3 linked regions of the Homo sapiens genome follow. The protein of the gene in region 2 interacts with the protein of the main gene of each other region in a pairwise test. Each region holds a gene or a part of one and is shown on either strand. Other genes may lie near its edges. The genes, in order: CLNK, RPAIN and GSTA1.

Region 1 (3,655 bases), on a different chromosome or scaffold from region 2:
AACTTGAGTCTCAGCTTCTCTAATCTGAAAGATGAGGCTATGAGTGCTCATCCTTCTTTGCTCATAGGATTATTTTGAAGACCAAGTAAGATGATGAAAGTGAAAGCACTCTGTAAAGTATAAACCGCTATGCAAGAATAGTTCCACAGATAATTACTGAGTAATTTCTTTGCATCAGTGCCGTGAAAAACTCTGAGGATTTGAAATTTGGCTAGGAAGGTATTCCAAAATAATTTCTATTATTTTTCATTAAATCTTAATATTTTCAGAGGATTAGCACATTTGAGGAATTGTAAGACACCCAAGGCTTTGATAGATGAATAATAAAAAATAAATAAGAATATGATGAAATTAGTTTCTGTAGAAATCACCTTAAAATAGAACTTCTTCAGGTCAAATATCTAGAAAACCCCATCATCTCAGCCCAAAATCTCCTTAAGCTGATAGGCAACTTCAGCAAAGTCTCAGGATACAAAATCAATGTGCAAAAATCACTAGCATTCTTATACACCAATAACAGACAAACAGAGAGCCAAATCATGAGTGAACTCCCATTCACAATTGCCTCAAAGAAAATAAAATACTTACAAGGGATGTGAAGGACCTCTTCAAGGAGAACTACAAACCACTGCTCAATGAAATAAAAGAGTATACAAACAAATGGAAGAACATTCCATGCTCATGGGTAGGAGGAATCAATATCGTGAAAATGGCCATACTGCCCAAGGTAATTTATAGATTCAATGCCATCCCCATCAAGCTACCAATGACTTTTTTCACTGAATTGGAAAAAAAACTACTTTAAAGTTCATATGGAAGCAAACAAGAGCGTGCATTGCCAACTCAATCCTAAGCCTAAAGAACAAAGCTGGAGGCATCAGACTACCTGACTTCAAACTATACTACAAGGCTGCAGCAACCAAAACAGCATGGTACTGGTACCAAAACAGAGATATAGACCAATGGAACAGAACAGAGCCCTCAGAAATAATGCCACATATCTACAACTATCTGATCTTTGACAAACCTGACAAAAACAAGAAATGGGGAAAGGATTCCATATTTAATAAATGGTGCTGGGAAAACTGGCTAGCCATATGTAGAAAGCTGAAACTGGATCCCTTCCTTACACCTTACACAAAAATTAATTCAAGATGGATGAAAGACTTACATGTTAGACCTAAAACCATAAAAACCCTAGAAGAAAACCTAGGCAATACCATTCAGGACATAGGCATGGGCAAGGACTTCATGTCTAAAACATCAAAAGCATGGCAACAAAAGCCAAAATTGACAAATGGGATCTAATTAAACTAAAGAGCTCCTGCACTGCAAAAGAAACTACCATCAGAGTGAACAGGCAACCTACAGAATAGGAGAAAATTTTTGCAATCTACTCATCTGACAAAGGGCTAATATCCAGAATCTACAATGAACTCAAACAAATTTACAAGAAAAAAAACAAACAACCCCATCAAAAAGTGGGCAAAGGATATGAACAGACACTTCTCAAAAGAAGACATTTATGCAGCCAAAAAACACATGAAAATATGCTCATCATCACTGGCCATCAGAGAAATGCAAATCAAAACCACAATGAGATACCATCTCACACCAGTTAGAATGGCGATCATTAAAAAGTCAGGAAACAACAGGTGCTGGAGAGGATGTGGAGAAATAGGAACACTTTTACACTGTTGGTGGGACTGTAAACTAGTTCAACTATTGTGGAAGTCAGTGTGGTGATTCCTCAGGGATCTAGAACTAGAAATACCATTTGACCCAGCCATCTCATTACTGGATATATACCCAAAGGATTATAAATCATGCTGCTATAAAGACACATGCACACGTATGTTTATTGCGGCACTATTCACAATAACAAAGACTCGGAACCAACCTAAATGTCCAACAATGATAGACTGGATGAAGAAAATGTGGCAGATATACATCATGGAATACTATGCAGCCATAAAAAATGATGAGTTCATGTCCTTTGTAGGGACATGGATGAAGCTGGAAACCATCATTCTCAGCAAGCTATCGCAAGGACAATAAACCAAACACCGCATGTTCTCACTCATAGGTGGGAATTGAAGAATGAGAACACATGGACGCAGGAAGGGGAACATCACACACTGGGGCCTGTGGTGGGTTGGGGGGAGGGGGGAGGGATAGCATTAGGAGGTATACCTAATGCTAAATGATGAGTTAATGGGTGCAGCACACCAACATGTCACATGTATACATATGTAACAAACCTGCACGTTGTGCACATGTACCCTAAAACTTAAAGTATAATAATAATTAAAAAAGAAGACAAAAAAGGGACAAAGGCCAAGAATCTAAGGAAGGTTTGTTTAAATATAAAATAAACTCATAATAATAATGCTAAGAATGATGATAATAGCCACTACCATTTACTTTGTATTTAATAATTACTAGTCACCATGATATGCATTTTTATGTACTGAATCTCATTTCTCACCACAAATTCGAGCAGTAGATATTTTTATTCCATTTTATAAAGGATAAACAGAGGTTCTGAGGAGTTAAATAACTTGTCTAAAACCATATTGCTAGGAAGTAACTGATTTCAAACCCACACTATCCATGTCTCAACGACTGGATGGCGTGGTATAGTGAAAACAGCATGTATCAGAAGTAGGAGTTTGGGATGGGGACTGTGTGGAGGTGTCCTGTGTAAAGAGTCCAGACAGATAAAGCTGATCGGGAGATCCCTAGACTTGCCCATGAGTGAGGACGTCCTGATATATATATATATATAAATTTCTACAGGTAACCATGGGGCAGACTGGCTTTCCAGGTGCCTGCCAAGGCATCAGACCACCCATAGCTCAGCAAATCCAGCTTTTGAAATTACACAGCTCTGACTTAGTGCTCAACAAGCTACTGCCCAATATCAATTTAGTTTCCTGTGTACATTTGTCTCCTGGGAGGGAATATGCCAATCATCTGAACTTATAATTTGAGTACACTTGAACAAAATCACCAAAGATGGATACATAGGTCAAAGTACCAGAGTGAACTGACCTCTTGAGCTCCATCAACTCTGTGTGCCTTGGATACAATTAGCTTTCTGGGTCTTCAAAACTGATGGTGAAATGTGGTCCTTAGGCAGTCCACAAAAATTCAGCCCTCTCAGAGTTTGGGCCTAGGCTATTAGTCAGCCCTTATCTTTATCTTACACGAAATTGAACACAGAACCTACCACTGTTAAAGATTATCATCCAATCACATGGATATTAAATTTTCATGTTGTATCTAGACCTTTTGGCTCATCTTAGTTCAAATGACAAACCACAGTACCATTTAAACACAATAGGATTTTGATTCTCATGCATAAGTGTTTAGGAAGCAGTGTTTCAATTAGTATCACCAATGAAATTTAAAAGAAACAACTAAAATACATATTTTGCTAATGCTTGTGGTGTATCTGGGAGTTCCTTAAATGCTGTTGACTAGTTTGGAAGACAGTGATTGATGCCCTGATCATGAACCTGGGAACATCAGCAGGGTACTCATGGAGCACCATGCCGAGAGCAGGAGCTCGGGGCTCGGGTGGACCTGGGTCTCATTTCTGGCATATCCTCCTATTCATTGCATGAAATGGACAATGCATGGAGCCTGCCTG
Region 2 (3,655 bases):
TGAACCCGCAAGGCAGAGGTTGCAGTGAGCCTAAATCACGCCACTGTACTCCAGCCTGGGCAACAGAGTGAGACTCCGTCTCAAAAAAAAAAAAAAAAAAATTACTGAAGCTTAAATTCTGAATTAGGTATGTCTTCATATATAGAAAATTTTTATGAAACGTCAGATACAGGCGTTACCAATCCCAAGCTGAGGTCTCCATAAAAACGTTAAGCGGTGATGGCTCTCCAGGGCCCTAAAGGCTCTGATGTGTACTGTTTGCCAATTTTCATGCCATAGATATTCTCACCATGGCTGATTTGAAGCTACCAATGTGACACCACTGAACATAAAACTGGGAAGAAATATGCACAATGGGCTCCAAGTCAGCACTGGAGGATCTTCAAGAAAGTAGATCCATGTGGGAAGAAGTATCATGAAATCTGTGTGTGGAACACTCACATGAGATGGGATGGACAGGCCACACTGACACACCACCACACCGCTTGTGATTCTCAGGTTGTACCTAGAAGCAGAATTAGGATCCCAGAGCATCATGGCCACCAGACCTGGATCTCCAAACCTTGAATTTCAGGCAACAAATCTGGGGGGAGATTCCACTCACCTTGGAGTGGGGAATGGGAACGAATAATGCTGAAAAGGTTTTAAAAACTCTTACTTTGTACATACAGGACAGATGAGTGGGTTTGCCTCCCACTCAGCCAGCATGATGCTGAGACACTTTTCATCAAACTGCAAGCTCTTCTCATACTCGCTGATGATGGACTGCTCTGCAAGGCAAAGGCAGTTGGAGGGCTTCACCATGCTTCAGCTGGCCCTGTATTTAATTCTAAACTTCACTGTCAAAGGCTTCCTTCACACGAGGGAAAGATTTGGGCAAGACCACAATACCAATGACTGGTTTTTATGCTCTCTCAGGCTGGCTTCATCTTGCTGGATTCCTCTCCCTCCTCTCTGTCCCCTTTTTGTGAGCACAAGAGGTGAAGTAGGCTAAGGGCCGAGGAGACAATTTTCACACACATCTCCAGAGGCCATAGGAGCACAGATACAGAATGTCAGGGTCCCACAGGCAACTAAATAAAGTTGACAAAGAGAACTGATTGCTGGCCGGGCACGGTGACTCACACCTGTAATCCCAACACTTTGGGAGGCTGAGGCAGGCAGATCACTCGAGGTCAGGAGTTCGAAACCAGCCTGGCCAACATGGTGAAACCCATCTCTACTAACAAACACAAAAAATTAGCCAGGCATGTGGCGCACGTCTATAATCCCAGCTACTCGGGAGGCTGAGGCAGAAGAATCACTTGAACCCAGGAGGCGGAGGTTGCAGTGATCCGAGATTGCGCCACTGCACTCCAGCCTGAGTGACAGAGCGAGACTCTGTGTCAAAAAAAAAAAAAAGAGAGAACTGATTTCTGATGCCAGGACGACCCTGCTGATTCCACATACTTGGAATCTGTGTTGTTCAGAATCTGTGTGCTCATTCATTCAGCAAACATACAACAGTACCTAGTATCTGCTAGTCACAGGGGCACAAAGATGAAAAAGACTGTCATTGTTGAGCTCACAGTCTAGACATTAGGGAAGGGGTCAAAAAACTACAGTCACGCTTATTTGTTTATGTAGTGTCTATAACTGCTTTTCCACTAGAACTGCAGAGCTGAGAAATTGTGCCAGAGACCACATGGTCTGTGAAGTCTAAAGTATTTGCTATCTGGCTCTTCACAAAAAGTCTGCCAACTTCTGCTTTAGAATGTTCCTTATGGCTGAGTACAGCACAACACAGTAAATCCTTGTCACTTCAGACTTATTAGTTAAGTATGCCCCAAAATAAAACATTTGGTCAGGCTTATGTTTCACCACTAAGATAGGTTTTGTAGGTGGGGGAAGGGAAAATCAATAAAAAAAGATGATAACTTAAGGAATTTACAGTCTAACCAGAGTCGACAGCAACAGTCATTAACAACTAACACTTGCATGGCACTTATGTGTCAAATGCTATTTTAAATTCCTTACATATATTAACTTCTTCACTATTATTATCCTTATTTCAAAGGTGAAGAAACTGAGGCACGGGGAAATTAAGTGCTTTGGTCGGTGCCACACAAATTAAAGTAGTAAAGCCAAGTGAATGTTAGAGGTATGACTCAAGAGCTTGTGCTCTTGCCTCACCATAATAATAGCTGTTGATTATTGAAAGCTCTCTATATGCCAGACAATGCACTAAGTCTTCTACACACGTTATTTAAGCCTTACAACAAATTTATAGGGTATTCTCTCCATTTTATAGGTCATAAAAATGAAGCCTAAGGCTGGGGGCCATGCCTCATGTCTGTAATCCCAACACTTTGGGAGGCTGAAGTAGGAGGATGGTTTGAGTCCAGCTGTTTGAGACCAGCCTAGGCAACATAGTGAGACCCTGCCTCTACAAAAAAATTTAAAAAATTAGGCTAGGCATTTTGGCTCATGCCTGTAATCTCAAAACTTTAGGAGGCTGAGGTGGGGGGATCACTTGAGACCAGGGAGGAGTTCGAGACCAGCCTGGGCAACACAGTGAGACCCTGTCTCTACAAAAAAATAAAAAAATTAGCTCGGTATGGTGGTGCACACTTGCGGTCCCAGCTACTCGGGAGGCTGAGATGAGAGGATTGGTTGAGCCTAGGAGGATGAAGCCACAGTGAGCCATGATTACATCACTGCACTCCAGCCTGGGCAACAGAGCAAGAACCTATCTCAAAAAAAAAAAAAATACATAAATAAAATAATTTTTTGTCTTGTTTTTATCATCTTTAGCTAAAAAAAAAAAATTAATAAAAAAAAATTAGCCAGGGGTGGTGGCACACGCCTATGATCCCAGCTATTCAGAAGGCTGAGGTGGGAAGATCGCTTAAGCCCAGGAGGTCAAGGCTGCAGTGGGCCGTGATCACGCCACTGCATTCCAGCCTGGGCAGAGACCCTGTCTCAAAAAAAACAAAAACAAAAACCAAACAAGGCCTAATCAAATCAGGGCTACATGGAATAAATGACTTAACTATATAAGGTACAAAATTATGCTCTCTACACCATGCTATGGACACCTCCCTCAAGGAGTGGATGCTCACAGGCCCTGGGGAGTTAATAGAGAATGTGGCACTTAAAATGAATAGGGCAAGGGATCAGACCATGCACTATCACTGTATCCTGTAAAATGGCAGGTTTACTTTTTTTTATTTTATTTTTTAAAGTGACAGGGTCTCCCTCTGTCAGCCAGGCTGGAGTGAGGTGGTAAAATTATAGCTCACTGTAACCTTAAACTCTTGGGTTCAAGTGATCCTCCTGCCTAAGCCTTCTGGCTGAGGGAGGCTACAAGTATTTGCTACCACACCCAGATAATTTTTTTTTTTTTTTTTTTACTTCTGTAGAGACAGGATCTTGTTATGTTGCCCATGCTGGTCTTGAACTGGCCTCAAGCAATACTCCTGCCTCAGCCTCTCAAAATGCTGGGATTACAGGCATAAGCCACCACCCTCAGTGAACTATTAACCCATTAATAGAGAGGCAGGATGGTAGAAGAAACATGGGAACTGGATTCATACAACTGATTTTGCTTCCCATCTCCTCCACTTACTAGCTGTATGACCTGCACGAGAACACCAACCACCTTCTGTTCTAATAC
Region 3 (3,655 bases), on a different chromosome or scaffold from region 2:
AATAAATACATTAGTTGTTAAAGGCAAGTATATTTTTGTTCCACACTCAACAACCACAAAACTTTGCAAGAAGAATCTTAATGTTAAATATCAGAGCTGGGGGTTTGGAGAGAAAACGCAACTGTTCCTAAGTCTTGGCACTGGAACTCCTGCTTTCAATGAGTCCTGTGCCCTTCCATTCACATTCATGATACAATTAGTTGCATCTGTCCCTGCAGCCACTGGTTTTCATTCTCTGATACTCTGCTATGTTCCACCTCCCAAACAGCCTGGGATAGAGCAAGGGCTATCAAACTTCACTGATGAGCCCAGTCAATTTCTCTCTAACCATTTACAATGAGCAAGTGAGCATGCACACGTGCAAACATCCGTACACACAATATACAAATAACTGAAACTAACAACTCATCAAACATTACTTACCTTTCAACATGTCATGCTCACTGACATTTTCTATTCTTTTCTATTTTATTTTTAAAAGTAATGGGCTTTCACAATCTACTGAAAGATTACCATGCATATTTCAGAAACACTAACATAGAAAATAAGACTCAGTCCTTGGTTTTTAACAGCAGTGAGTCTGCATCCCGATCCATCATTTACTCTGAGAAAGTTACTTTAAAAACCTCAGTATCCTCAAATGTAAAATGAGAATAACAACTGCATTCATCTTAGGTGATTTTTGTAGGATAAAACGAAGAGAAGTTTAGAAGAATGACCAGTGTGTAACTGATGTTGAACAAATGCTAGCTCCTTCCATATTGCAAAATTAATGCAGCAACATCTCTTCTTCCAGCTTATAAAACAAAATGCACCCCATAGAGTTAGAATACAGAATTACAAAAGCTGCAGGGATTAACAATCTCTGTCTGTTGATAGATTTTGGATCTTCTAGCTACAGTTAAACAAGTCTGAGGCCTAATTTCTGGTTTTGATCAAATGTAGTCTCACAGTCAAAGAGGTGAAGAGTGACTTAGCTCCCTGCCGGTCCTCCCTGTCAGTGACATCCTCTGGTTTCATGGCCAGTTCATGGGTTCCCAGGGCCTTCACCCAGCTGGCTTCCAGGAGTGACTTCATTTTAGTCCTTGGTGTAGATATTCATGTCCATCACCAACCGGAGTGTGACTGTGAACATTGTATTTCTCTGATGTTCCATTTCATTAACTAAAAAATTGAGATAACAATCATTTCACGGGACTATAAGGAGGGTTAAAGATATAAAATATTGAAAGGGACTAGCATTGAGGAAGGATCACTAGGAAGTTTTCAATAAATATTAGTTCTTGAATTCTTCCTCTTCCAATAACTCCTATACATGTATTTTTACCACATACTCTCACCTCTTATGCTGCCAAGAAAAGTCACAGTTAGCCAATGAAGACTTGAGACTGGTTTGCTGGAATCTGAGGGTGGCCACTGCTGGGTAACAATTTGAGCCAAGAAAACATTCCAGGAACTCCTCCAACACAGTCATGAAGAAGGAAGGTTCTTCTTCAGTATTGTTGGTGGTTTTCAACTACATATCCTAAAGTACATTTTTGATTCTATCGTTTCAATTATTCATTCATTCATTCATTCATTCAGGCTTAGAGAAACCTCCAGGAGACTGCTATCATGGCAGAGAAGCCCAAGCTCCACTACTTCAATGCACGGGGCAGAATGGAGTCCACCCGGTGGCTCCTGGCTGCAGCTGGAGTAGAGGTAGGTTCTGAGTTAGGTCATCTTAAGTTGGATTTAAAATTGTGTTATCACATACTTTTCCCACAGAAACTATGAGATGTTGCTTACTGAAGCATTGTGCCTTAAATAAAAATGGACTGTAATTAAGAAAAAGATGAACAGATTTGACCTATTAATTCTTAAAATTTCTTCTCATCTAAAAGCAAACATATTAAAATACAATTAAGACACTAATCACAAAGTGCAGAACTTAAGTGGATTAGAATTTAAACAAACTGTAAAGAATAATTTATAGCATTTATACAATTAGAAACATGAATATCGATTGAATATATGAAGACATGAAATAATTATTGTTAATATTTCATGTGTGATAATGTACTATGGCTGTCTTTAGAATAGTTAATGTGTTTTAGGAAAACACATTGAAGTATTTAAGGATTAATCATATGGATCTGGGATTTCCTTGGAATTATTACAAGAGGAGAAGTAGGTGGGCATATAGATGAAACCATATTGGTTTTGATTGATAATTATTGATTCTAGGTGAGAAGTATAAGGAGAATCATTATGCTTTTCTGTTTATATTTATTCATGTTCATAATTTCCACAATAAAAAAATAAAAATGCATAATATTAAAAAATGATTGTAATTAGAGGTAAAATGCAAACTACAAATGAGAGATGGAAGGGAGTGGATTGTAACAAACTACCTATTAAAGATTGACTACATTCACAGCAATTATTTACTTGAGCACTTATTAATTCCAGGTTCTGTACTCGGTCATGGAGATAGTGAACAAGACAGACACAGTCCCTGCCCTGGGGCAGCCTACGTGTCTATGAGGATGCAGAGAAATAAACACGTGGTTAAAATGAGGGGAGGAGGCTTCTAGAACACACAAGCATTCCCCAATGCCACAAAACCACATCAGAAACCAGAGGTTTTCCTTAAAAATAATGCTAGTGTGGGACCCTAATTCCTTTATTAAATTGAGAATTTTACCCTATTGTGCCTCGTACTTCAGAAGAGAAAATTACAGTTGCAAGTGTGAAAGCTGTGCAACAGTGGCGACCTATTTCACACTTAGCAGGGTTCCTGAGAAGTGGGGCGATACAAATTACAGCAGAGGCTCCTTGGTGGCAAAATGTTTGATAGCCATTAGCCCATGGCATGCCTCATGCTGGGGACACACAAGGTTGTGGTCTGATCTCACTTGGAGACACAGGCTTTCCTAAGATATGACAACACCATAACTAGAAGAACTGCTCAGTGCCTTTTCTCCAGTGATGTCCCCCTCAAAATATGACCTAATCATAGACATTCATATCAGGGTGGAGTTGAAGTGAACTAAAAGATTTAGCAGCTATGTGCTGTGACCCATGCACTTTTCTCAATGAATTAGGTCTAAATTTCCAAATGGCCATGACCAGCCCCCTCTGTGTACCCTGCCAAACTCAGAAATCTTGTATTCTCCAAATGATGCACCAGATGGGGCCATTCAAGGCCACAGTCTATAATAGAATGAACTAACAAGAACGTATTTACTGTTTCTGCTTCCAGTTTGAAGAGAAATTTATAAAATCTGCAGAAGATTTGGACAAGTTAAGAAATGGTAAGATCAATCTCTAAGTTCCTCTGATGAGGGTATCTAGTAGAAGGTACACGGGGAGGTTTGCGCAGCCGGCAATGTCTATGGGTGTGGGGCATGGTATTTGTACATGGTGCAGAGGGAGAAAGTGGTTAAAATGGAAGGGATGTGGCTCCTTGAGCAAGTCTGGCAACTCTCTCCAGGTTAAAAGGACCAGACCTCTCAGAGTATTTGCTAGAGGAACAATCTCCCACCGCTGAGAAAGCCCTTTCTTTGTTTTCATGCTTGGGGCACCATGAATGAGTGGTGGTCATCAGCACAGGATCCCATACAGCCCTCCCCATCCAAGCACATGCAAGAACATGCATTAGACAAAAGGAGGA

The links.
Region 1: the proteins of RPAIN (region 2) and CLNK interact in a two-hybrid assay, tested with the Homo sapiens proteins (one large-scale study listed by BioGRID and IntAct).
Region 3: the proteins of RPAIN (region 2) and GSTA1 interact in a two-hybrid assay, tested with the Homo sapiens proteins (one large-scale study listed by BioGRID and IntAct).

Annotation. Positions count from the first base shown.
Region 1 is NC_000004.12:10,678,216-10,681,870, forward strand, and holds part of CLNK (cytokine-dependent hematopoietic cell linker), read right to left. Parts: intron 1-3,655. UniProt on the Homo sapiens protein: An adapter protein which plays a role in the regulation of immunoreceptor signaling, including PLC-gamma-mediated B-cell antigen receptor (BCR) signaling and FC-epsilon R1-mediated mast cell degranulation.
Region 2 is NC_000017.11:5,423,086-5,426,740, reverse strand, and holds part of RPAIN (RPA-interacting protein), read right to left. Parts: intron 771-3,655; coding exon 659-770; intron 605-658; coding exon of another isoform or gene 534-604; exon of another isoform or gene 512-533; intron 506-511; coding exon 442-505; intron 1-441. UniProt on the Homo sapiens protein: Mediates the import of RPA complex into the nucleus, possibly via some interaction with importin beta.
Region 3 is NC_000006.12:52,797,227-52,800,881, reverse strand, and holds part of GSTA1 (glutathione S-transferase A1), read left to right. Parts: intron 1-1,584; 5' UTR 1,585-1,614; coding exon 1,615-1,701; intron 1,702-3,244; coding exon 3,245-3,296; intron 3,297-3,655. UniProt on the Homo sapiens protein: Glutathione S-transferase that catalyzes the nucleophilic attack of the sulfur atom of glutathione on the electrophilic groups of a wide range of exogenous and endogenous compounds.